7 linked regions of the Homo sapiens genome follow. The protein of the gene in region 1 interacts with the protein of each later gene in a biochemical or structural test. Each region holds a gene or a part of one and is shown in the gene's direction. Other genes may lie near its edges.

Region 1 (3,500 bases):
CTTTATGTGGGGAGCACATGGGGCCTCCCTCCACAGCCTACCCCTGCCTTGATGGGGCCCCTGTTAGCCTGGACAGAGGAAGGAAAGAGGGCCTGGAGGAGGCTCAGTGCTCAGCCTGGTGTCTGGCTGTCCCCACAGGGAGCAGAGAGACCCCATCTACCTGAGGGACAAGGTGACTCAGAGGCATTCCAAAGAGCAGTTTGAGGCGGCGCAGAAGCTTGAGCAGGAGTACAGCAGGTACTTCACAGGTAGGTGTGCGTGGGCCTGGAGTGGGGAGCAGGCAGCAGGGAAGGAAGCAGAGGCTTCCTAAGGCTGTTTTCTTAGCCGTGGAGAAGCCCGCACTTTCTACATGCTCCCAAGTGCTGTCATGAGCACGTTCCTGACAAGTCAGGTGTTCAGATTGCAGTCCCTGGCCAACGTCAGGATTCTTACAGGTTGAATGTTAAGCTCACCGATCTTGGCCTCAGGTCCTGCCTGGCTTGCCTGCTCATTTTCACACGTGCAGTGGTGGGTCTGTCTCATAGCACAGGTGCAGTTTAGTGCAGCCACAGTGTCCCCAGGCAGGGCGGGGACTGGAGCAGCCCCCAGTGTGCCAGCAGTGTGGGCAGCGGAGGCTAGGGGCCCATCTGTCCCTAGCACCCTCCAGGGCAGTCCCGTTTTGCAGCGGGATTTGGCAAACCCCCCTCCAAAAAAAAAAAAACAAAAAACAAAACAAAAAAAAACAATGCTGTCCCCTTACCATCTCTGGTCTTCAAAGTGAAACAAACTCAGTGAAGTTTGGTTCTATTTTACCTTCTGGCCTTCAGCCTCTTTGGGAAAGTCTGTCATTTGCAGGGCATTAGCATTTGCAGTCACAGAGGATGGGACAGGGATTCTAACTGCATTGTGGAGAGTGTTATGATCTAGTCCAGGGACCTGGGCTTGGTGCCCATGTGTGTGTAGGTATGTGCAGGTGTGCATGCCTCTGTGTGTGTGTGTGTGTGGGTGTGTGTGTGAACTTTCATTTCCAATTCCTCACAGACTGGTATTTAGCCAAATACACTGACAATTCCTAGAGAGATGAAAATTTAAAACTCTAAGTCTTGCAAAAGGTAAGCTCTATTTTTTTCTTGTTAGATTCAACAGACATAAAATTACGACGTCCTGTTTCCATAGCAGTTTCTAGACACTCACTGTCAATTTCTGAGCATGCCTTGTTGCAGTAGGGGCTTGGTTTGTGTCCAGGTGCTGTTATGTGGAGCACACTGGAGTACCCCTGGCCTGGTGTCTATAGACCCCTTTGTCAAACTCCTATAGTACAGGGCTGGCCCAAGTTGGCGCCATCATCTTTCTGTGACTCTCCTCTTGGCCATGAGCTATCTGGCTCCTTAAACTTGTCGTTTCCTGCAGAATCCTGCTAATGATTAGACCACCGCCACATGTCCTCCAAACTTCCTTCTGATGCCCTGGGATTCCCCCAACCATTGCAAACCCAACCCAGGGTGTTAACTGCAGTGGGGTGGGCAGTTTACATATGAGTGATCAACTCAAGAGGGGCAATTTTCTTTCCCAGTTTCTTGCTGGTGAAGGAGAGTCAGGTGGGGATGGAGCAGAGTGCCAAGGAGCACAAAGCAGACAGCCACACAGTAGAAAGAGTGCAAGCTGTACTGCCTTGCCTCAAACCTGGGGTCTTACTCTGAGCTGAATGACGTGTCTGGGGGGCTCTTTTGCAGGGGTCATCCAGGGAGGAGCCCTGTCAAGCATTTGCACTCAGATCTTGGCAATGGTCAATCAAGAACAAAATAAAGTCCTGTGGATTCCAGCCTGCCCGCTCTAGGAGAATGCTGTGCTGTGGATGACTGCAGCTGGCCGCCTGAGGGGACACCAGACTCAGCTCTTTTCTAGCGACTGAAAGTAGAAGTCTGTCCGTCTATGAACATGCGGGGGAAGGATCCGGAACCAGGACCCAGAAGCACCTCCTTTGTAGACAGAGGGCCACGGCTGCGTGCGATCCAGGCCCAGGCCCACACACTCTGCCCGTGTCACACGTGTGCTTTAACACAAAACAGATAACACTAAAGACGGGTTCAGCACCCACCTTTCTTTAGCCAGCTGATCAGAGATGCTGCAAAGAGAACCTTTCGGATCACTCGTTTACAAGCCTTTTCTAAGTATTTGGTGGTTTATGTTTACTTGAACGGCTCCATGTTGCCGGTGCCCAGCCCCTGTCCCCTCTGTCAACCCCCTGTCGCTTTGGTGTTGGTTTCGTTCCCGTCTTCAGCAAAACGACCTTGGAACCTCAATGGGGGCTGCTTTGCTTTGGGAGGTTCTTGTTGGTGGGACCAGAGCTTTGACAAACCTCCTGCTCCTTGGTGGCACCTCTCCTGGAAGGACGTCACAACTCCAGGTGCTCAGACTGCCTGTGGCAGCAGAACCAGTGCCTTTGGCATTTTCCTCCCACAATGGGGAAGGTGACTTTGGCATTCTTACAAACTCGTCTCTCGGCCTTTCTCTCCTGCCTTCCACAGCCTCTCGTTTCTCCTCCATCTGTGCTTATTACTTGAGGACTGTGTCTGCTCCGTGAGAGCTGCGTGGGCAGGGCTGCAGTGGGGTCCAGGTGGTGTTCAGCTGTGCTGATGCCTGCCATTGGGTCCTCCTTAGGCTCTGTAAGTCGTGACAGCCTTCATCAGTGCAATGTTTGCAGGGTAATTCTTAAACTTTTTAGAGGGTGGCAGGTACATCAGTTCTTTTTGATATGAAAACATTCATGTTTCAGACATTGAATTGAGAGCTTTTAGGGGAAGCATAATGGTTATTGTCACTATCAACAGTCTAAAAAGAAAAACTGAGGTCTTTTTAATCTTGATTACAGCACTCACGGCATGCACCCTACTCAGTGTGGGTGTCTTCGTTTGGGGGCTTTTTTTTTTTTTGCACTTCTGAGGCTAGATATGTCTGGCTGAAGATTTGATGTGGTTCCTCCTTAAGCTATGCGTCCTGTTAATAATAGGTACTGTACTGGGCTCTGTGTAAGTGTCGTTGGGGTAGGACCTATATTTTAATACTGTTCCTAACATTTCATTTTACTAGCGAGAAATCTTTGATTTCATTTTATTCTTTGTAATTCTAGACACTAGATTGTAGTTTAGCCATAACTGATGTTTTTTAAAAAGGGATATATTTTCTTGCACAGTTGTTCAAAAAAGAGACAAGTTTCAGTCCTCAATGCTGTCCTTTGTTTTACAGGTACAAGTTTTCTAGCTCAGACAAACTATGAAAAACTGTAGACTATTCTCAAGGTATTAACTCGCAGACCCTCTGGGGGTAGGGGCTGTTTTCTAAGTTACAGGCAGAGTGGGACTGAGATGGTACAGTGTGCACAGACAGGTACTGAGCTGACAGACTGGGATTTTCTGTACTAAAATGTTACTTTGTATCAAAAGTTAAACAGGCTTTAGTACAACAAATAAAGGTCAATTTCTGTAAGGCTGTGTTTGAAGATGTGAGTTTTTAATCTCTTC
Region 2 (3,500 bases), on another chromosome or scaffold:
TGAAGTACCTTTTTTCTATAAATGTTACTCCGTAGCTAATAAATGTGGCTAGTGGATGTCTTTTGAGTGCTGGGGCCCCAGCTAGAGCTGCCCCTCCTGTCTGGGGCAGACGCCGTGAGGAGCCCCACGCTCGGCCCAGGTGGCGCGAGCTAGTGTTTGGCCCCAAAAACTGACTGCTGAGAGCCAGAGATACGAATGAAATGATAAATCCTGAGGTTTATTTCACATGGAGTGTTTAAAGAGCAGAAGGAAGTGCGTGATAAGTGCCCTTTCGCGGTGAGCACGCGAGTCTCATGTTCTCTGCCCTTCCCGCTCTGTGCCCTTGGCAGCTCCCCTCCCACCCGGTCACTCCGTCCAGCAAGCACGCAGACAGCAAGCCCGCGCCGCTGACGCCCGCCTACCACACGCTGCCCCACCCCTCCCACCACGGCACCCCGCACACCACCATCAACTGGGGACCCCTGGAGCCTCCGAAAACACCCAAGCCCTGGAGCCTGAGCTGCCTGCGGCCCGCGCCTCCCCTCCGGCCCTCAGCTGCTCTCTGCTACAAGGAGGTGAGGTCCCTTGACCACTCAAACAGCCAGATGACGGTGAGCATGCCTCGGGCCCTGGGTGTGCCCACGTGCTGGGCCTTCTGTGTACAGCAAAATGCACCCTAACTCCTAGAGAACTGAGAAGGGGGGGTCTGCCTTGGTTCTCTGGTTATCTGCTCTGCTGCTGAGAGGCCCGTGGTAACCTGTGTGGGAAGGCGATGTGCAGGGTCCCCCTCCTTTCTGCCATGCACAGGGGGGCCTTTACTGCACTTGCCGGAGGAGTGTGCCGCCAGGGGCCAGGAGCTGGAAAGGCGCTGAGCCCAGGTGGCTTTCACTCCCTGTGTGTGAGGCCATCGCTCAGCATCTGCACGCTGTCTGCTGCGTCTAACGACCCCTCCTCTAGGTTGGGGATCCTGTCCAGGAGCCCTGCATTTTGTCATCCAGAAGCCATTTGAGATGAAGAGAACATTTACTAATACAAATGAAAAACAATCACTTAGGCGGTTTCCCCCTTTGATGCATAAGAAATCATGATGCGGTCTTTGCTTGTCTCTGTTCTCATCCGGCATTTTTATATTTGCTAGGCGCAAATAAAGTACGATTCCAATGAATAAATAGAAGTGTTAACACTTCCTTACACTTTTACCTAAACCAGCTTGGATGAGGAAAGGAAGTGTCTTTAGAAATCTGTTCTGAGAAGTACTTTCACCTGAGGAAGCTGATAATTGAGATGAGAGTTGTTTTCATAAGCAGTTGAGCGTGCATGGTGGTGAGGTATGAGGAGTGGCGGTGAGAGTGTGGGTATCGTGCGCGTCAGTGTGAGCAGCAGTGCCCGTTGGTGGGGTGTGAGTGAGCGTGAGGATGGTGACACGCTCTTGCCTGGCATTGTGCCTCTGTGTCTGGTCAAGGCCACATTTGCCAAGGGAACTGGAGCAGACTTTTTCTACATTCTTGCCGGCAGCCCTGGGGGTTTTAAGGCCCACAGGAAAGTACTGTATGAGAAATTAGGATCTGTGCTTTTCATTTTTTGTTCTGAGTCTTTGTTTTTATGATATCTTTCAGGTAATCATGTGTGCAAGTCAGAATTTCCATTTTCTATCATGGGAAGTTACTTGAAGAATGTTGCTGTTCCTTATTGTATACTTTAGTGTGCACAGTCTAAAGAAAAAGTGAGCTACTACAAGAACTGGTGGAGACTGAATTACTAGGGAAGAAAATTGGGATAAAACTGTTGGGCAAAGAAGTAGAAAGGGCAACGGAAGGGGTATTGAAGTGAAGATAAACAATTTTTTTTGATAAGTCTGGCTGCATTTGCTTTGCCAACTCCACACTGGGAGAGAAGGGCTCACACCGAGCAGCTGCCGTCCAGTGTTGCTGAGCACCGCCCAGCAGTAGCGTGGAGAGTGATCTTGCAGGGTGTGAGAAGAGGACATGGAGGCTCGTGGAGGCCGCTCTGCAGCCCGCTCTGCCTGGCTCTGGCTCAGGTGTGCTGTGTGCTCTGTGACCCTCTGCGCCTGCAGGTGCCCTCGGAGCACGTGAGGGGCGGGCGTTGGCTCTTCAAGGCTCTCCATCTCAATTTGCTTCGAATTAGGGAAGCCATGAGCACATGTGTATAAATGTGTCTTCTGGAACAGATTGCTGCTGCATTTCTAAGAGCTTTCCAATTTTTTATAGAAATACTTTTGTTTAACTTTTTGAAGGCTATTTTAGATTCAGAGTTTGTTACGTGGCTGTATTGGGTGATGCTGGGGTTTGGGCTTCTGGGGTACCTATTACCCAAATAGGAAACATTGTACCCAATGGGTAGCTTTTCAAAACTCACCCCCATCACCTTCCGCCTTTTGGAGTCCCCAGGGTCTGTCATTTCCATGGTCATGTCCATGTGTACCCATTGTTTAGCTCCCAAGAAAAGACTTTTAAAGATAATTTTAAAAACCAAGCTTTGTTTCCTCTGTTTCCAGCCTGGTTCATTCCATAGCACATCTCATCTTCTGAGTCTTGGTCTCGCGTTTAGCATTCGTGATGGTTTATGTCGTTGGGGTGATGCAGAAACCAGCCTTTTTTTGATATCGGTATTTAACACGTGCTTGACAGTTGACACCTTACCTGCTCTGTTGGGACTTGCTTTGCTCACTTTGTTTTTTGCCGTCGTCTTCTGTGCTTGTTTGAAAAGCTGTTTGAAGAGGTAAGGGGTGGGCCATTCCGTTGTGAACACTCTGAGCTGGTGTGCATGTGGCCCCTGCACAGCAGCCCTGGCCGAGCTTGGCTGTGCTCCTGGCACTCAGAGTCAGGTAGCTGAGCACTCGCTCCCTTTTCTTCTCCCTGAAACTTCAAATATTTTCTTAAAGCAATTATTTTTTACTTATCTGTCATTTAATGACAACCTTAGTTTCCTCCTCTCTTTCCAGTTAGCTGTGCCAGGGGATAGGTCTGTCCTAGGGAGCAGCTGCCCCCTCCTCTCCTCCTCCCTCAGGAGCGTGCAGGATGTCTGTGCACACCAGCGCCAGCCTGCCTCCTGGTGACACCTCTCATCACAGGACTAACAGGACCCAAATGACACGAGGGGTTTTATTAGAATTAAAAAAAAAAAATTAGCCAATGACTAATACTGAAAATGCCCTATTGATTTTTAAAAATTAACGTTCAGAAGCTGGTAAAGAAAAATCAAAGTAGGAAAAGGCGAGAAGCTCTTATCAGTGGCTATAATAATTTGGGGTTTTATACCTTTACAGCAGCCTTTCTGATATGCCAGTGAAAATGATTGGCTTTAGAGTATGTTAGCATTTTCTTTTGTCTTTCCCTAGGATCTTAGTAAGAGCCCTAAGACCATGAAAAAGCTGCTGCCCAAGCGCAAACCTGAACGGAAGCCTTCAGATGAGGAGTTCGCGTCCCGGAAAAGTGAGTACCTGCGGTCCGTGTGGTGGAGGACGTGGCCTCCTGGTCACGTAGGCCATGGCTTTCCTGGGA
Region 3 (3,500 bases), on another chromosome or scaffold:
CTTCTTCTCTTAACCAGACTCCTCTACTTCTTCATTCTGAGTGATTTCTTGATCGATTAATGTGTTTTTTTGTTTTGTTTTTTTTGTTTTTGTTTTTTTTCATTTTCTAAGGTGTTTCACTGAGTGATGGAATCTCTGAATCTTTGCCAGATACTCTTCTGGGTGATAAACTTTTAGGTTTCAGTTCTCTCAGTATCTCACCTGTATTTTTCTCTCATCATCTAGCTTTCATTGTTGCAGATGAAAAGTAAATTTTTTTTAATTACCTGTTTTCTCTTGCAACTTAAAAGATCTTCTTTATCTCTCTCTCTCTTTTTTTTTTTTCAGGAATCCAACCAGATATTCTTAGGGGTGTGTGTGTGTGTCTGTGTTTCTTATCATTCCTGGTTGCAATTTATGCTTTTTCCATCTGTAGATGTAGGATTTTCCATGGTTCAGGGGAAATTCTCTCTGTAATTCATTTAGTTATAGTCCTTCTTCCATTGGTTTCTTTTTTCTCATTCTACATTATAGTGTTTTTAGAGGTTGTTCCTCTAAATATGTTTATGGAAAATAGAAGGATCACAGAAAAAATACTACAAGGGACTATCTGCTATTTTATAAGAAAGACACGGACATGTGCTTTGTGATTTGAAAGGAAGGAGTAACACTGATAGTTTTGTAGTGTATGTTTATGATACTGCACTTGTTAGATGTGGTTACTAGGTGAAAAAATTCGTTTCAGAGTACTCACATGGGGGTTGGCTTCATCTTCATTATACCACATTTCTCATTGTTAAAATTTATTTCTGATGTATGTTTTAAAACATAAATTCACAGATTAAAAAATTTTATTTTAAATTCAGGGGTACATGTGCAGGTTTGTTATATAGGTAACCTTGTGTCATGGGGGTTTGGTGTTCAGATTATTTCGCCACTCAGATATTAAACCTGGTACCGTTCAGTTATTTTTTGTGATCTTCTTTCTCCTCCCAAAGATGGCTCCCCAGTGAATGCTTCCTGACATTTACACTCTTCTACAGTAATTTTCAGTACAAGGTCTCACTCTGTCACTCAGGCTGGAGTACAGTGGTGCAGTCACAGCTCACTGCAGCCTAGACTTGCTTGGGCTCAGGTGATTCTCCCACCTCAGCCTCCAGAGTAGCTGGGACTGCGGGCCTGCACCACTATGCCTGGCTCTTTTTTTGTATTTTTAGTAAAGACAGGGTTTAGGCATGTTGCCCAGGCTGGGACCACCTGCTTTTTTTTTTTTTTTTTTTTTGGAGACAGGGTCTCACTCTGTTGCCCAGGCTGGAGTGCAGTGGTATGATCACGGGTCACTGCTACCTCAACATCCTGGGCTCCAGTGATTCTCCCACCTCAGCCTCCCGAGTAGCTGGGACTACGGACTACAGGCATGTACCACCATGCCCTGCTAATTTTTGTACTTTTTTCTAGATATGGGGTTTCACCATGTTGGGCAGGCTGGGTCTTGAACTTCTGGACTCAAGCAATCAGCCTGCTTTGGCCTCCCAAAGTGCTAGGTTTACAGGCATGACCCACTGTGCCCAGCCTAACCTGTTTTTTTATTTAAGTCTCCCTTCAAACATTGTCTCTCTGAGGAGAGGCAGATACTGTTTTTCTTCTACTTCCGTGGGTACTCCTGTGTACCCCTGTTGTAGCCCAACCATAATGTAATTTACTGTTTTGTAGGGGCCCATGAGAGAAAGTCATGTGTCTTTTTGTTTTCATATCCTTAGATGTGGCACAAGTGCAACCTTAAAAGGTTAGTAATATTCACCAAACAAATACTTAGATGAATGCTTAATTTCTATGAAACAATGCTTATTCTCCAGGTGTCAGGCATTATGCCAGTGATAGATACGCAGACATAAATAGGGCAAGGTCCTTGTCCTCAAGAAATGCCATCTGAGGTGGGGTGGGATAGCAGATGAGAGACAACAGGGCCAGATCATGAAGGAACAGATCGTATTTCATTTACAGCTAAAGGATGCCAGCATTTATGCTATTCACCTTTTTAAAGAGGTGAATTAACAGTAGTTAAAAATTCTAACTTAACTTACCCATTAATAAGAGCAGCTTTGTTATAAATTTTGCCACTTGAGGAAATGTATTCTTATAGACCCAGATGTCAAGCTGTCATAGAATCTTGTGATGTGAGGAGATTAGCATTGTCTATATGTTTCAAATGATTTACTGTAAGTAGGGGGTTTGCGTCAATCGTAGGCGGAACTTTGGGAGTCAGAATTGCATCAGTTGTCTGAATTGAATTACTTTGTCTGTGCTTTCTGAATTTTGAGATTAAAGTTTAAAATCAAAGTCTTGGCTATTGACTTGTATATTTGTAAAAGTTGAAGTAATCTTTTCTTAGTTTTAATATTTTCAAATCTAATAACTTTTTTCTTTTCTGATCTTGTGCAGTTTAACAGTTCTGGGAATAAAAATCTTTATTAGTTAATTGAATATTATGGGTTTATATAGAATTGCCATTCATAATATTTTAATGTAATATTCAAAAAAATTCATTTTTTTTTAGTAATACAACCGTCACTTTAGCATCTGGTATTCCTTAGCATCATCATTTGAAAATTAACAATATTGTACCTTAAAGTACAGAGGTCCTTTATAAAGCAGCAGGCTTTCTAGTTGATAGATTGCTGCGCATAGAGTAGTTTTTAGTTTGTTGCCTATGGTGAACTTCTTATTTTCTGGATGATTCTTTGGGATCCTGGCATTAGGCACAGAACATAAGCTTACACTGTATTGTCTTTACATTTGTGTGCACCATAACTGTGAGGACCTTTTCAATGTTATGAAAAATGCAAGTTAGAAGAACTTCTCTTTTTCTCTTCAATGCACATGGACCTGAAGTCTTTTGAAAATACAGTTCTTCAAAGTTTAGAAGCAATCCATGGAATATTTTCAGTGACACACGGAATATTGTAGTTCAGCATATATGGTCAGTTTATAGGAATTTTTATTTATTCTGTATTTAGTTTTTAATAAGAATTTCATAACTGGAAGATTTCATAGCAACAAAGGACTGTCATTGAATGTGTATATAAATTTAACTTGTATCTTAGAGTTTTCTAGTTATAACATAGTGATGGTGATGTAAGGATTTGGCATAGAAAGAAGTTTTAGTGAAGGAAGTGAGAATTAATGTTCATGCAGAGTAATCAAACCAGGAGAGTATGGTTTGATAAGCCAAAAGAGATGAGAGTTTTAGGAGGAAGGGATGATTAATAGTGTCAAATTAAAGGAAAAACAGCAAACAAGGTTAAGTAAGATAAGGACAAAACAGTATGTATTGATTTAAGTATTTATGAAAGCAGTTTCAACAGAGCAGTTGGAACAGGAGACTAATGGCAGTGAATATTGTCTGTCTTTGTTTTCTCTTCTACACTAGAGAACTGGACAGATAAGTACTATTATTGTCTATTCTGGCTGACATTATTGTTAGTGAATGCAACACATGTTGAAGAGCAGTCTTGTAACCT
Region 4 (3,500 bases), on another chromosome or scaffold:
CATATTTTGACGTAAATGTGTGTCTTAGAGATCTTCATTTCAGTAAATATGAATCTATATTTTTAAATGCTGCATAGTATTCCAAAACCTGGGACTCATTAAGTAGTCCATAGGAATGTACATTTAGATCATTTCTGCATAATTTGTGTGTGTGTCTATATGTGCGTGATTCCAGATGGTGGCAGGGAAGCTCCTTGAAATGCCCTCTAGTGTCCCCATGTGACTATTTCCTAGTAGGATATTTCTAGATTTTGTCATTGCTGGGCCTGAGAATATACATATTTTTTATTTTAATAGCATGGCCAAATTGCCCTCTAAAAAGCTTGTGCTGCTTTGTACTTATACAACACCAAGACCAACCAGGAGGGCCTCTCTGCCCACACCCACTGTCTCATAGGATGTTAAGAGGATTCTTTGTGTTTCACCTTTGCTTGGATAGGTGAAAATGGTGTCTCTTGTCATTTTAATTTGCTGATTACCAGTGACTTCTGGGCTTTACAGTGAGAGCTTGCTCGGGGCCATTAACCATCATTCTATGGGTTATTTGTCTTTTTCGTATTGATTTGTTGAAGCTTTTTATATCACCTGCTCTTAAACACATTCACCTCAGCTCTTGAAACGGCTTATGGACAGAGCAGCAGGAGGGTGCCGAGCCCTCCGAGGAACTGGGGTTTTCTTCGGAATGTTTTAATGAGGCGTCAAGTAGCCTCCCTCAGATTCCTGTTGTGGGCCTTCTGGGGACACTCCCTGGTCCAGCCACCACATCAGGAAGGCAGCTATTTCAGAAGGAGAGTCCTCAGGAAAAAGAAAAGGTGGGGCGAGGGTTTTGCAGACCTCTGAAATTGTCTGCAAAATACGGTGTGATTGGGAGAAGGGCGCAAACTTTTGCTCAGGTTTGCAGAAACATCAGAGACCTTCAAACCCTTAAAAGCCCCAACTCTGGGGCCAGTCTTATGCCCGAGGTGAGACCTAGTGGGATCCCATTCTGCTGAGCAGGCGATGGCTTAGATTAGGCCATACTGTTCTTCTGGGCCTTGATTCCTCAACCCAAGTAGGGCCTGCTTATGAAGATCCACCAGGTCGTAGCAGCCAACTCCGCTATCCCAGGCTGCATCCCACTGCCTGCCCCGAAGGCGGCCACGCTGGCTGGCCAGGATGAGAGGCGTCACAGTGCCTCTTCCCCCCCAGCCCCTCCCAGCCCCAAACACAGGCAGCCTGTTCAGGAAAGCCTGGCGAAGGGGAGGAAAAGTCAGCACTTGTCAGCGGTGGCGGGGCAGGACGAGGAGCCTGCTCAGGCCAGCCGGACAGAGAGAGGGCAGCAGGGGTGGGGGAGCAGTCCCAGCCAGCTGGCACGGGAGACATCCAGGGGTGCCAGCATGGGTCCCAGTAGTAGAACCTGGAGGAGGGCTGTAGGAAGGCCAGGAGGTCATGAAGGGGTCTCCTGTTAGCCAGGGTTTTCTCCTTCTGGCTGTGCTGGAGGCATCAACGGCCTGGTTCCCAACACCAGAGCCCAACTGTCCTCTACCCAGTTACAGCTGGGGACAAGCCGCCATCACTGGCATCACCGGCACCTTTATGTCTACACACCTCTGCTCCTAAATCGGCTTCGGGGAGGCTGCCTTAGGGGATCTGCAAAGGGAGACTTGCTTAATGTAGCAGCTAAAATCCAGGATTATGGAAAGATGATACCGTGGCTGGTGCCAGGGTACCCGTGTGGCTGGGCACTTCCTCCTCTCTTTCCCTTCTTCCAAGGCTGCTGCTTCAGTGTCAAGCAGATCTTAGCTCCATCCCTGGCCCTCCTCTTTCTGTGACTCTTGGCCTCAGTGTCCCTGTCTGTAAAATGGGGATGTGGTAGAAGGTGCAGGAGGCATGGGTTTTAAAGCTCCTTGCTGACCATGGGGAGGATGTGCTACAGTGGAGGGTATTGAAGCCAAGCACCATGATGGCTGGGTTGGGGGAGTCAAGTCAGCCCTAATCAGGACCATAGGAGGAGTGTTGGGGGGATATGGGACAGCTGGTGCAGGGCTGGGTGGCCTGTAAGTGGTGGGTATGGACTAAGTGACCCCTGGCCACAGCCCAGCCCCAGTCCCTCAGTCCTCACCCCTGAGACCCAAGATCTGCAGATCCGCTGGATCTAAGGGGACGCAAGCCTGAGTCCTCTGCACCCTGGCGCTGAGCCAAGAAGACAGGAACTCCTCAAGGGAGAGAGGGTTGGAGGGGCGGGGAGAAGGGAGTAGCAGACAGGGGGCATGCCAGGCTGAGAAGAGATACAGCTGTCAGCATTTCCCCTTCATCCCCAGGAGATAAGGCCTCCTCAGTCAGGGCAGAGGCAGAGGAGGGGGTCCTTTTTCCTCCTAAGCTCAAGCTTGGGGCCTCTGGCAGTAACCTTGAATCCTAATGTAAGTCCAGAGTGGATCCAGAAATGCAAGGAGCCATTGGGATACTCTTCCATCCCAAAAGCTTGCCAGGAACACCTTATCTAGCAGGTCCTCCTGTAGTCCCTGCCCCCAGTCCACCCTGGGGCCCCATCTCCCATCTGCCCCTCACTGTCACCTGCTGGACTCAGCCATCTACCCAGATAATCTCCCCCAGCCACCTTGGGTCCCTGGCCTGGCTGGGAGCACCCATGTCACCAGGCAGCAGGGGTGCACATGGCGGGGATGTGACTTGCTGCTGCTGCTGCTGCTCACAGTATCAACAATAGCAACCAGCTTTTCCTGAGCTTCACCCCTGCACAGGCTTGTTGTGAAGTACTTCATTTAATCTTCACAGCAGCTTTTTTTTTTTTTTTTTTTTTTTTGAGATGGAGTTTCGCTCTTGTTGCCCAGGCTAGAGTGCAATGGCGCGATCTCGGCTCACTGGAACCTCCGCTCCCAGGTTTGAGCGATTCTGCTGCCTCGGCCTCCCGAGTAGCTGGGATTACAGGCGCACCACCACACCCAGCTAATTTTGTATTTTTCAGTAGAGACAAGGTTTCTCCATGTTGGTCAGGCTGGTCTCGAACTCCTGACCTCAGGTGATCCACCTGGTTTGGCCTCCCAAAGTGCTGGGATTACTGGTGTTAGCCACCGTGCCGGGCCAACAACAGCCCTATTATTACCCTGATTTTACAGGAAAACTGAGGCACACGGGTTAAGCAACTTTCTCAGACACGAAGCTAGTCAAGGGTGGAGGTGGGATTCACATTGTGGGGCTGGTGGCAGAATCTCCTTGAAGAGGAGGGCACAGCTGGAGGGAGGAGTGAACAGGAGTGGGGGCATTCCAGGCACGGAGCTGTGAGCTAACGTTTGGAGGGGTAGCGCACTTGGTGTGGGGTTGTCCTCCTCTTCTTGGGAAAGTGCTTCCTTAACTTTAACATGAGTTATTCTTGTTGCAATGGCTGTGCTAACAGATAAATAGGTCCTAAAGTTCAGGGAGGCCAGAGGTGGGGCCACCACCCCTATGGATGAATGAAGGAGTGTGGGAGTCATGCGTGCTGGAAGCACATATCTTTCCCTCTC
Region 5 (3,500 bases), on another chromosome or scaffold:
CTATATCCCCTCCCCAACACAGTCCTGCCTCACATTTCTCACTCTTAACGCTTTATTCATCTGTCCATTTACCAATCCAACAATAGTGGACCTCCTCTGTGTCAAACATTGGGCCAGACACAACATCTAGTGCTGAACAAATCGTGTTTCCTGCCCTCAAGCAGCTCGTAGTCTGATAAGGGAGAGGACAAGTACACAGTCTCTTATAGACCAGTGTGATAAGAGATCCATTCAGGTCAAGGTGGTCCATAGCAGCACCTCAGTGAGCTGGGGGATCTGGGGCAGGTGGATTTAGGATAATGTGAGTTCTGAGGGAAGTGTGAATCAGAGGGGAACAATTCAAGCAGAGGAAATGATGTGTGCAAAGCAAGTTATAGAAAGCATAGTGTGGCTTGTGGTGTGATGAGTGGAGAGAAATTCTGAAGACCTCACCGTACCATGTTATCTTAGGAAAAGGATTGGCTTCTTTTTTTTGTCTAGGTAGAACATAGAGAATCTTGACTATGACTTAAATAATCTTATTAAAAAAGGGAGGATTGTTTTTATGAGGCAGAGGTTAAGGAGAGAGAAAAAGAAAGAAACGTTGAAGAGAAAGGTGAAAACAAATAAGCTGTATGTGAGGAGTGGAGGGCAGGAAACAAAGAAAATAGTAATGTTTGCATTATCTTTCGGAAGGGAAGAGGTCAAGATGTTACATTACTTTAGAGCCTTCACCACTAGGTGGTGTTATTGGCTCAAGACAGCTTGGTTACTGAACTTGTTGCAAGTCTGGGAAGTATGCCTTTTTGTTTTGAAATAAGAAGTAGTGTTGGGAAATTAGGAAATTAGTTAGAGGTTAGATTATCAAAGGTCTTTAATGCAAGGTTAAGAATCATATACTTAGCAGGCTAAGGGGAAATACTGAATATTTTCAAGCTAAAGAATAATATCACAAAGAAGTTTGAATAGGTTGACTGGGATTGGGGGCAGAAAGCAGGAATACCAAAAGACTGTAGGAATACTCTGCATGAACAAAATACCCATTCTAACTAGGTGGTAGCAGCAGAAATGCAAAGGGAACCATTTTGAGAAATTGAGAAAGAAATGTCAAGTTTGGATAACTTTTGAGAAATGAAGGTTTGAGAGCCAGGAGGCTGTAAAGATTTTAGTCCATCCTTCAATTTCTCGAATACATAGAGTCGAAAGGATTAAGCAAGTTCCTTGAATTCACACAGTTGATTAGTGACAAAGCTGGAGCTAGGTTCCACATTTGATGTTCTCCCAACCCCTTCCTTTTTGTTTGATTTGTTAGTTTGCAAACTTGGTTGATTTGGGAAGTGGTGAGATTGGAAAATAACTGGAAGAGCTGTTATTTTGCAATGGCGAAAGGGTGAAAAGTCTATATAGTTGTCCCTTGGTCTCTAAGGGAGGTTTGGGATTTTATACCCAAATCTGAGAATGCTCAAGTCCCTGATATAAAATGGGGTACTATTTATATTTTTACTGTTTTATTGTTTATTTTAAAGACGTTCTCAACCTGAGGTTGGTTGGATCCATGGATGCAGAACTCTTATATAGTGAAGGCCAATCGTATAACTTAGGTTTGATGGTATTTTAGGAGGAATGTTACGAGGTGTTTGAGAGAGGTTAGAGCTGAAATTGCAGATTTGGTGCACTGATCCTTCATGATTTGAGGCAGAGTAGATGAGATCTTTAAGGGTGGTAATAAATGCATGTGGAGGAAGAGTTGGAAGACAAGTTTGTAATGCCAGAGTTGTAGGTGAGTCAGTGTAGAGTATAAAAGAGTATGGAAGAGAATCAGGAGAATGTTGTCATTCATTTTTCATACCTGTGGATTGCCTCTTTGTTTTGGGGGACTCTGTGACCGAATGAAGGATCAGGAGTGTTGGGGAGGGGAGTGAGTGGTGTCAAAGGTGTCATGAAATCAAGGAGGATGAGCACTGAGAAAAGGTCATTGGTTTGACATTAGCTTGTGATGCGGGAACGGCTGTTCTGCCAGGGTGGACCTGCAGGATCTCTGTGGAGCAGCGTTTGGCGGAGAGGGAGTTCTAAGGAAGCCAGGGCGGTGCTGTGAAACTCCTTTTCTTGCGATCTTTGCCAGTATAAAAAAAGAGAAGAATAAGAGTGTTTGTTTGAAAGAAGCAAAGGTTTGAATGAAGTTTATTTTATTTTATTTTATTTTATTTTTTTGAGACGGAGTCTGGCTCTGTCGCCCAGGCTGGAGTGCAGTGGCGCAATCTCGGCTCACTGCAAGCTCCGCCTCCCGGGTTCAAGCGATTCTCCTGCTTCAGCCTCCTGAGTAGCTGGGACTACAGGTGCATGCCACCACGCCCGGCTAATTTTTGTATTTTTAGTAGAGACGGGGTTTCACCATGTTGGCCAGGATGGTCTCAATCTCTTGACCTCATGATCTGCCCACCTCAGCCTCCCAAAGTACTGGGATTACAGGCATGAGCCACCGTGTCTGGCCAAGCTTATTTTTTAAGTAGGAGAAGAACCTGTGTGTGTGTATGGATTCTGCACAAGGTGTCAGGAGTGGGAGGAGCTGTAGAAGAGGCAGGATTTTGTGGTATCAGAGTATCTTTATTTGCAGCTAGGGTGGGTGGCATCTCTTCTGAGGTGTAAGAAGAGAGAACAGGTGAAGAGAACATTTTAAGAGGAGGAGGGAAGATGGACTTTTCTCCCTGAAGATTTCCGTTTTCTTGCTGTACATGGAACATTCACTTTCCTGGTCTGTCATTTAGTGAAGGGTTGACCGAATCTAATTATACAGGGAGCCCAATTCAACGTATAAAATAAAGTCTTACTTACCAACTTGGGAGTGGAAGAAGTGGCCATTGTTGATTATTGGCTACTCTGCCAAGATGTCATTTAAATTACTTCTGTTTGTGGAGAAAAATACATTAGATGAGATGATCTCCATTCACAAGAGGTCAACAGTCCATTGAGCTTCTCCTTGGGCAAAGTTTGTCCTGGAATGTGGATGAGGAGAAAGTGGTTGGAGGATAAGGAATATATAGAGAGGGGAAAGAAGAGAATAGCACAGGAATGCCTCACCCTGCCAGAAATAGACACACAGCCGCTGCCTACCTGTCCTGTCTTGTCGTTCCCAGGAGCACAGAACAACTAGAACCCGTCATCTTCGTAATGCCAACAGACATGTTTTATAGGTTCATGTAGATAACTAGGTTTTATATAGAGGCTGTTTGAAAAATAGGACATCTGTTTATCTTTCTTAAGGGCAGGAACACTTCAGGAATCTATTTTGGATTGATTAAATCATGTACATGGTGAAGTTTTCTGAAAAAGCCAGATTGTAGTTCCACACTGTCATTGTCAGTAAAGACCATTCTCAGGGTTAAATTGGAACCGGTGGTTGATCATGTGAAGGCAATATTTAAAGTATGTCTTGCTAGAGTTACCAGATTATTGCAGCCCCAGTCAAAGATAACAACATATAAATGGAGTTAGCAGAAGTGATTAAATGACATATACCAAGC
Region 6 (3,500 bases), on another chromosome or scaffold:
ATCTTGTCTCACTGCAACGGTGCTATCTTGTCTCACTGCAACCTCCGCCTCCCGAGTTCAAGTGATTCTCATGCCTCAGCCTCCCAAGTAGCTGGGATTACAGGAATGCCCCACCATGCCCAGCTAATTTTGTATTTTTTAGTAGAGACGGGGTTTCACCATGTTGGTCAGGCTGGTCTCCAACTCTTGACATTAGGTGATCCGCCTGCCTCTGCCTTCCAGAGTGCTGGGATTACAGGTGTGAGCCACCGCACTCGACCAGATTATTAGTTTTGTAAGACCGTTCCTTTGAGAATAGGTATGAGAAGATAGATTTTGGCTGATATCGTTAACCTGAAATTTAGACATAGAAAACAGTTCTGAGCTGTTAATATCAGCTGAATGGCAACAGTTGTTTTTCAACATACTGCTACAGCTGATGAGTTCAGTTTGTGTTGAAATAAGAACCTAGTAAAATGTATTTTTAAAAATATTTTTTAAGATTTAAATACAAATAATTTTAAATACAAAAAACTAGCTGGGCGTTTGAGCATTGCTATTTACTGCAACTCTAAAGAGTGAATGACCTGTTAGTCAGTACTGGCTGGCATACAGTTATACATTCTTGAATTTTACAAGTACTGTAGTTGGCTGAGAGCAGTCCTTGGCAATAAAGGTTTATCTTTCAGACCTGTGGAATATATTGCCCAAAGAGTTTTCCTAAAACAAGGATATGATGATCTCTTTGCAGATAGCATTTTACTTTTTTTTTTTTTTTTTAGACGGAGTCTCGCTCCATTGCCCAGGCTGGAGTGCAGTGGCGTGATCTCTGCTCACCACAAGCTCCACCTCCCGAGTTCATGCCATTCTCCTGCCTCAGCCTCCTGTGTAGCTGGGACTACAGGCGTCCACCACCATGCCCGGCTAATTTTTTGTATTTTTAGTAGAGACTGTTTCATCGTGTTAACCAGGATGGTCTCGATCTCCTGATCTCATGATCCGGCCACCTCGGCCTCCCAAAATGCTGGGGTTACAGTCGTGAGCCACCGTGCCCGGCCAGCATTTTACTTCTAAAGAAATGAAATGGGGCCAGGAGTGGTGGCTGATGCTTATAATCCCAGCACTTTGGGAGGCCAAGGCGGGTGGATCACCTGAGGTCAGGAGTTCAAGACCAGCCTAGCCAACATGGTGAAATCCCATTTCTACTAAAAGTACAAAAAATTACCTGGGCGTGGTGGCAGTCATCTGTAATCCCAGCTACTCGGGAGGCTGAGGCAGGCAAATGGCTTGAACCTGGGAGGTGGAGGTTGCAGTTAGCCGAGATCGCATCACTGCTCTCCAGCCTGGGCGACAGAGCGAGACTCTGTCTCAAAATAAAAAGAAAGAAATGAAGTATTCTGGTAAATGAATTCTTCTCCAGCTCTCAGTTGAAGCTTTGTTCTTTGAGGCTATAATGCTTGTAATACAAGCACAATTTGGACAAAAGCATTCTGGTGCCCATTAAGTCATTCAACTTTTTTTTTTTTTTTCTTTTGAGACTGAGTCTCACTCTTTCACCCAGGGTGGAGTGCAGTGGCACGATCTTGGCTCACTGCAACCTCCGTCTCCCAGGTTCAAGGAATTCTCTTGCCTCAGCCTTGCGAGAAGCTGGGATTATAGGTGTCCACCACCACGCCCAGCTAATTTTTGTATTTTTAGTAGAGAAAGGGTTTCACCATGTTGGCTAGGCTGGTCTCGAACTCCTGACCTCAGGTTGCCTCAGCCTCTCAAAGTGCTGGGATTACAGACGCGAACCACTGTGTCTGGCCCTTTTTATTTTTTTGAGACGGAGTTTTGCTCTTGTTGCCTAGGCTGGAGTGCAGTCGCGCAATCTCGGCTCACCGCAACCTCTGCCCCCTGGGCAAGATTCTCTTGCCTCAGCCTCCCAAGTAGCTGGGATTACAGGCATGCACCACCATGCCCAGCTAATTTTGTATTGGTAGAGACAGGGTTTCTCCATGTTGGTCAGGCTGGTCTCCTGACCTCAGGTGATCCACCTGCCTCGGTCTCCCAAAGTGCTGGGATTACAGGCATGAGCCACTGCGCCCAGCCTTTTTTTTTTTTTTTTTTTTTTTTTTTTTGTAATTGAGACAGAGTCTTGTTCTGTAGCCCAGGCTAAAGTGTAGTGGTGCTCTCAAGCGATCCTTCCACCACAGCATCCCTAGTAGCTGGGACCACAGGCCCACACCGCCACCACGCCCAGTTAATTTTAAAATTTTTTTTGGAAGAGACAGGGTCTTGTTTTGTTGCCCAGGCTGGTCTTGAACTCCTGGGCTCAAGCAGTCCTCTTGGCCTCTCAAATATGGGGATTACAGGCCAAGGCACCTGGATCCCAACGTTTTTTTTTTTTTTTTCTTCCCCAAAACATATAAGCACTTGATTAAAAAAAAAAAATAGTTGGACTCTTTCTTTCCCCCCCTTCTCACTATTGCACTTGACTAATTTTTTTTTTTTTTTTTTTAAGACAGTCTTGTTCTGTCATCCAGGCTGGAGTTGCAGTGGTGCGATCTCGGCTCGCTGCAACCTCTGCCTCCCAGGTTCAAGCAATTCTCCTGCCTCAGCCTCCCAAGTAATTGGGACTACTGGCGCATGCTGCCACGCCTGGCTAATTTGACTGATTTTATTTTATTTATTTTATTTTTGAGACAGAGCCTCACTGTGTCACCCAGTCTGGAGTGCAGTGGCACACATGTACTCCCAGCACTTTCGGAGGCTGAGGCTAGAGGATACCTTGAGCCCAGGAGTTTGAGACCACCCTGGGCAACATAGTGAGGGCCCTGTCTCTGCAAAAAGTAATTTGAAAATTAGCTGGATGTGGTGGCATACACCTGTGGTTTCAGCTACTCAGGAGGATGAGGCAGGAGGATTTTTTGAGCCCAGAAGTTGAAGGCTACAGTGAGTTGTGATCACACCATGCACTCCACCCTGGTCAACAGAGTGGGACAGTCTCTATTTGAAAAAAGAGGCCGGGTGCGGTGGCTCACACCTGTAATCCCAGCACTTTGGTAGGCCGAGGCAGGCAGGTCACAAGGTCAGGAGTTCGAGACCATCCTGGCCAACATGGTGAAACCCTATCTCTACTAAAATACAAAAAATTAGCCGGGCATGGTGGCGCGCGCCTGTAATCCCAACTACTCTGGAGGCTGAGGCAGGGGAATCGCTTGAACCCGGGAGGTGGAGGTTGCAGTGAGCTGAGATTGTGCCGCTGCACTCCAGCCTGGCAACAGAGCAAGACTCCATCTCAAAAAACGAAAAGAGGGCCAGGCACAGTGACTCACGCCTTGTAATCCCATCACTTTGGGAGGCCGAGGTGGGCAGGTCATGAGATCAGGAGATCGAGACCATCCTGGCTAACACCGTGAAACCCCGTCTCTACTAAAAATACAAAAAATTAGCCAGGTGTGGTGGCACACGCCAGTAGTCCCAGCTACTTAGGAGGCTGCGGCAGGAGAATCGCTTGAACCTGGGAGGCAGAGGTTGCA
Region 7 (3,500 bases), on another chromosome or scaffold:
GAAATCAAGCTTTGTATTAAAAAGCAAATTAAGAAGTCACATGTCAGCATTTTGTTTGTTTGTTTTGAGATGGAGTCTCGCTCTGGTGCTATCTCAGCTCACTGCAAGCTCCGTCTCCTGGGTTCATACCATTCTCCTGCCTCAGCCTCCCAAGTAGCTGAGACTACAGGCGCCCGCCACCATGCCCAGCTAATTTTTTGTATTTTTAGTAGAGACGGGGTTTCACCGTGTTAGCCAGGATGGTCCCAATCTCCTGACCTCGTGATCCGCCTGCCTCGGCCTCCCAAAGTGCTGGGATTACAGGCGTGAGCCACCGTGCCCGGCCACATGTCAGCATTTCTGAGGAGGTCTAACATGACTTCTCAGCTTTTGGTTGGAGCTCATTTTATTTCTAAACTTTTTTTTGGAAACTTTCATGTGCTGCTGTTGGGATGGGGAGACACTCTGATGAGAGCCAGGAGAACTGTGTCTGTTGCAGATTTTGCATGGCCTTGGCACATCAGCAACTCTTTCATGTCTCAGTTTCCCTAATGCAGAGTGGCTGTTTTCTGTTCCATTGTGTGACATGACTAATGACTCCTGATCAACCTGTTATTGAGGGGAATCATGCATCATAAAAGGCCTCTCAAATCTGAGCTTCTAAAATTCTAAAGCTTATAGCCAAGCAAGGGAGTTGCTAGAAAAGATGTTCTGCTTTTTATTAGAAGCCCAACTTGTTTCTCTCAATGCTGGCCCTGAATTGCAGAGAAAAATAAGTAAGTGTACATTATTGGATTGCACATGTTTTTTCTCTGCTACTGGAAACTTAGTATGTCCTCTTTTGGCCTCAGCACTGACCCAGGTGGAAATCGTTAGGTCATTTACTGCTAAGCAGCCAGATGAACTCTCCCTGCAGGTGGCTGACGTCGTCCTCATCTATCAACGTGTCAGCGATGGTGAGTGGGAGCGTTCTTATGGGACACTCGTGGTCCAGGATGCAGAGTGCTATAGACCCGAGGAGTGTCATTTTGTCATCATTGCCCATATTCCAAATCTTGACATGTTAATGTTTGAGATCACATATATGTACTGTCTTCTCATCTCTAAGGCTAAACCATGACGTTTTCTTTTTTCCCCAGTCCCTCAGTGACCCAGTTCTTATCTCTAAATATTCGTCCTTTCAAAAATAGCATTCTTCCTGCTATCCTTTACCCAAAGCATCTCCTTTCCCAGCTCAGCCCAGGTTCAAATACTCTCAGCCTTCTCACTTCAGGGCCTCTGCTCACGTTCTTTCCCTGCCATGTCATTCATTCCCCCTCGAAAGCTTTCCCTGTCCCACTTTCTCTTCTCACCGTAGCACTTAGCCTGGGGAGGGATGCTGCCTCTCAGCTTTTTCATATCCTTGGAGCCTGGCACACTCCAAATACTTGTTGTTTGGTGTGGACTCTGTTCTTTTTCACAGGCTGGTATGAGGGGGAACGACTACGAGATGGAGAAAGAGGCTGGTTTCCTATGGAATGTGCCAAGGAGATAACATGTCAAGCTACAATTGATAAGAATGTGGAGAGAATGGGACGCTTGCTAGGACTGGAGACCAACGTGTAGTCTCTCAGATGGTCTTTTGTTACTGCAAGATTTGCACGACACTTACCGGGCTGGTTGGTTCTGGGCTAGTTTTATTGTTAATTTTGTCACAGCCTATTTAATTAAAAGAACGAAAACACTTGCCTTTAAGCTTGCCAGGTTGTTCTGCTCTCTCATGAGAAGAGCTTGGATACAGTGAGTTTGCACAGCTCAGTTTTTACCTAACCACACACTTGCAGACCTCCTGAGGTACACAGAATAGCTGAGCAGTTCACTTCAGGGATCAGGTCATCTCTGCTCCTCCTAGTTTCACCATGTTCTGGCAATAAAAAACACATATTATATCCTGGTTTTCTCTATCCTTGCATTACTAAGGTGACTGTCTCTCTTTATACATCCTTGTATGGTTCTCCCAGTATTAGCAAGATTGTATATCTGTAAAGAATGTCCAGTTTTGTAAATATTTCCCTGCCTTTTTTTTTCTTTTTTTACATCTGATTTTAATGCTTCGTTAACTTCAAAAGGAACTGGTAGAGTTCAGAAGGTGAGCTGTTGTTTTTCTAAACCTCTTCCCAGGAAGGGGACATTGACACTTGAATTTTTGTCACCTTTTTCCTCATTAGAAGGAAAGTAGAAAGCCTTACTTTAGGATTTTTAAAAAAAAATCCATCTCACCCCATATTGTTCTTAAATAAGTATAGACTAATTAACCTAAGCTACCTTTAACAACGTAGAATTTAGATGGGTTCATATATGTGAGAAAAACCTGAATATAGGACAGGGGTCCTACTTTTTTCCCCACCTCTGTCGCCCAGGCTAGAGTATAGTGGTGTGATCTTGGCCCACTGCAACCTCTGCTTCCTAGGTTCAAGTGATTCTCCTGCCTCAGCCTCCCAAGTAGCTGGGATTGTAAGAGTATGCCACCACGCCCAGCTACTTTTTGTATTTTTAGTAGAGACAGGGTTTCATCATGTTGGCCAGGATGGTCTCTTAACTCCTGCCCTCAAGTGATCCACCAGAGAGGAGATCCTCGGCCTCCCCAAGTGCTGGGATTATAGGCATGAGCCACCGTGCCCAGCCTACTTTCTAATTAATTAAAAAAAAAAAAAAAAAAAAAAAAAAACCTTCCCAAATGAGCTGATAAAAAACTGACGTGAGGCTGCTTTGCCTTCAATAATACCTAGTTTTCAGCTGTTCCAACTCGTTTCCAAATAGAAATTAGCTGGAACACACTACAGTAATCTCAAGGAAGGGAAAATTAGGCCTTAAAAGATACCAAGAAGTCAGCATGGTACCCAATTGAAACCTTTTGACCTTAGTGGGAATTCATTCTATTTGCACTAAAAGCCTTAACTTGCTGTATTCAGAGTCCCTCTTAACTGTGAGTTTCTATAGAACTTTACTTTTTCCACTAGTGCACAGAGAGAGAAAGGTTATCTTAATAGTCGGTTTCATGGAGATGAAGGATGGGAGATTAAGAGGGGGGAAATGATTTTTACTGGCAGCTATATTCCCTCTCTGTTCTATTTGCTTTAACAAAGGGATAAAACCTGGCAAAGTGTACATTATTGGAGGACTCAAATCTGTATGTGACATGTCCCAACTACTGTCCGCTAACTAGTTATCCAAATTGTAAAGCTACAGAAGCCCAGTTGAGGGGTAAGTGTGCCTGGCTCACACAGCCTGCACCCTGTCACCTCGGCAATGAGCCAGTGTGGGGCACTGGGGACTTCTAACCCTTGGATTGCTCTTTTTGACCTGTGCATACCTTCTAATTGTAAAATATATTTCAGACCGTGAGTACCTTGAGATCTGAGCAACTGTGTTAATGAAGTAATAGCAATGGTCCACAGTGAAAGATGTGTTGGGGTTTGCAAAACAAGCATTCCGTCACCTCTTTAATAATGTCACAGACTTTTTAAAAGAGAGGCTATCAA

The links.
Region 2: the proteins of DLG5 (region 1) and ARHGEF7 interact in a test that uses a peptide from one of them, tested with the Homo sapiens proteins (one large-scale study listed by IntAct).
Region 3: the proteins of DLG5 (region 1) and GUCY1A2 interact in a test that uses a peptide from one of them, tested with the Homo sapiens proteins (one large-scale study listed by IntAct).
Region 4: the proteins of DLG5 (region 1) and PTH1R interact in a test that uses a peptide from one of them, tested with the Homo sapiens proteins (one large-scale study listed by IntAct).
Region 5: the proteins of DLG5 (region 1) and FAT1 interact in a test that uses a peptide from one of them, tested with the Homo sapiens proteins (one large-scale study listed by IntAct).
Region 6: the proteins of DLG5 (region 1) and GJC1 interact in a test that uses a peptide from one of them, tested with the Homo sapiens proteins (one large-scale study listed by IntAct).
Region 7: the proteins of DLG5 (region 1) and ARHGEF26 interact in a test that uses a peptide from one of them, tested with the Homo sapiens proteins (one large-scale study listed by IntAct).

The regions. Positions count from the first base shown.
Region 1 is NC_000010.11:77,790,756-77,794,255, reverse strand, and holds the end of DLG5 (disks large homolog 5), read left to right. Parts: intron 1-138; coding exon 139-248; intron 249-1,712; coding exon 1,713-1,816; 3' UTR 1,817-3,465; downstream 3,466-3,500. UniProt on the Homo sapiens protein: Acts as a regulator of the Hippo signaling pathway.
Region 2 is NC_000013.11:111,282,810-111,286,309, forward strand, and holds part of ARHGEF7 (rho guanine nucleotide exchange factor 7), read left to right. Parts: intron 1-329; coding exon 330-554; coding exon of another isoform or gene 555-590; intron 591-1,595; exon of another isoform or gene 1,596-2,017; intron 2,018-3,337; coding exon 3,338-3,431; intron 3,432-3,500. UniProt on the Homo sapiens protein: Acts as a RAC1 guanine nucleotide exchange factor (GEF) and can induce membrane ruffling. Functions in cell migration, attachment and cell spreading. Promotes targeting of RAC1 to focal adhesions. May function as a positive regulator of apoptosis.
Region 3 is NC_000011.10:106,941,977-106,945,476, reverse strand, and holds part of GUCY1A2 (guanylate cyclase soluble subunit alpha-2), read left to right. Parts: intron 1-3,500. UniProt on the Homo sapiens protein: Has guanylyl cyclase on binding to the beta-1 subunit. Isoform 2 acts as a negative regulator of guanylyl cyclase activity as it forms non-functional heterodimers with the beta subunits.
Region 4 is NC_000003.12:46,887,721-46,891,220, forward strand, and holds part of PTH1R (parathyroid hormone/parathyroid hormone-related peptide receptor precursor), read left to right. Parts: intron 1-3,500.
Region 5 is NC_000004.12:186,717,357-186,720,856, reverse strand, and holds part of FAT1 (protocadherin Fat 1 isoform 1 precursor), read left to right. Parts: intron 1-3,500.
Region 6 is NC_000017.11:44,823,788-44,827,287, reverse strand, and holds part of GJC1 (gap junction gamma-1 protein), read left to right. Parts: intron 1-3,500. UniProt on the Homo sapiens protein: One gap junction consists of a cluster of closely packed pairs of transmembrane channels, the connexons, through which materials of low MW diffuse from one cell to a neighboring cell.
Region 7 is NC_000003.12:154,253,890-154,257,389, forward strand, and holds part of ARHGEF26 (rho guanine nucleotide exchange factor 26), read left to right. Parts: exon of another isoform or gene 1-84; intron 85-830; coding exon 831-935; intron 936-1,441; coding exon 1,442-1,584; 3' UTR 1,585-3,500. UniProt on the Homo sapiens protein: Activates RhoG GTPase by promoting the exchange of GDP by GTP. Required for the formation of membrane ruffles during macropinocytosis. Required for the formation of cup-like structures during trans-endothelial migration of leukocytes.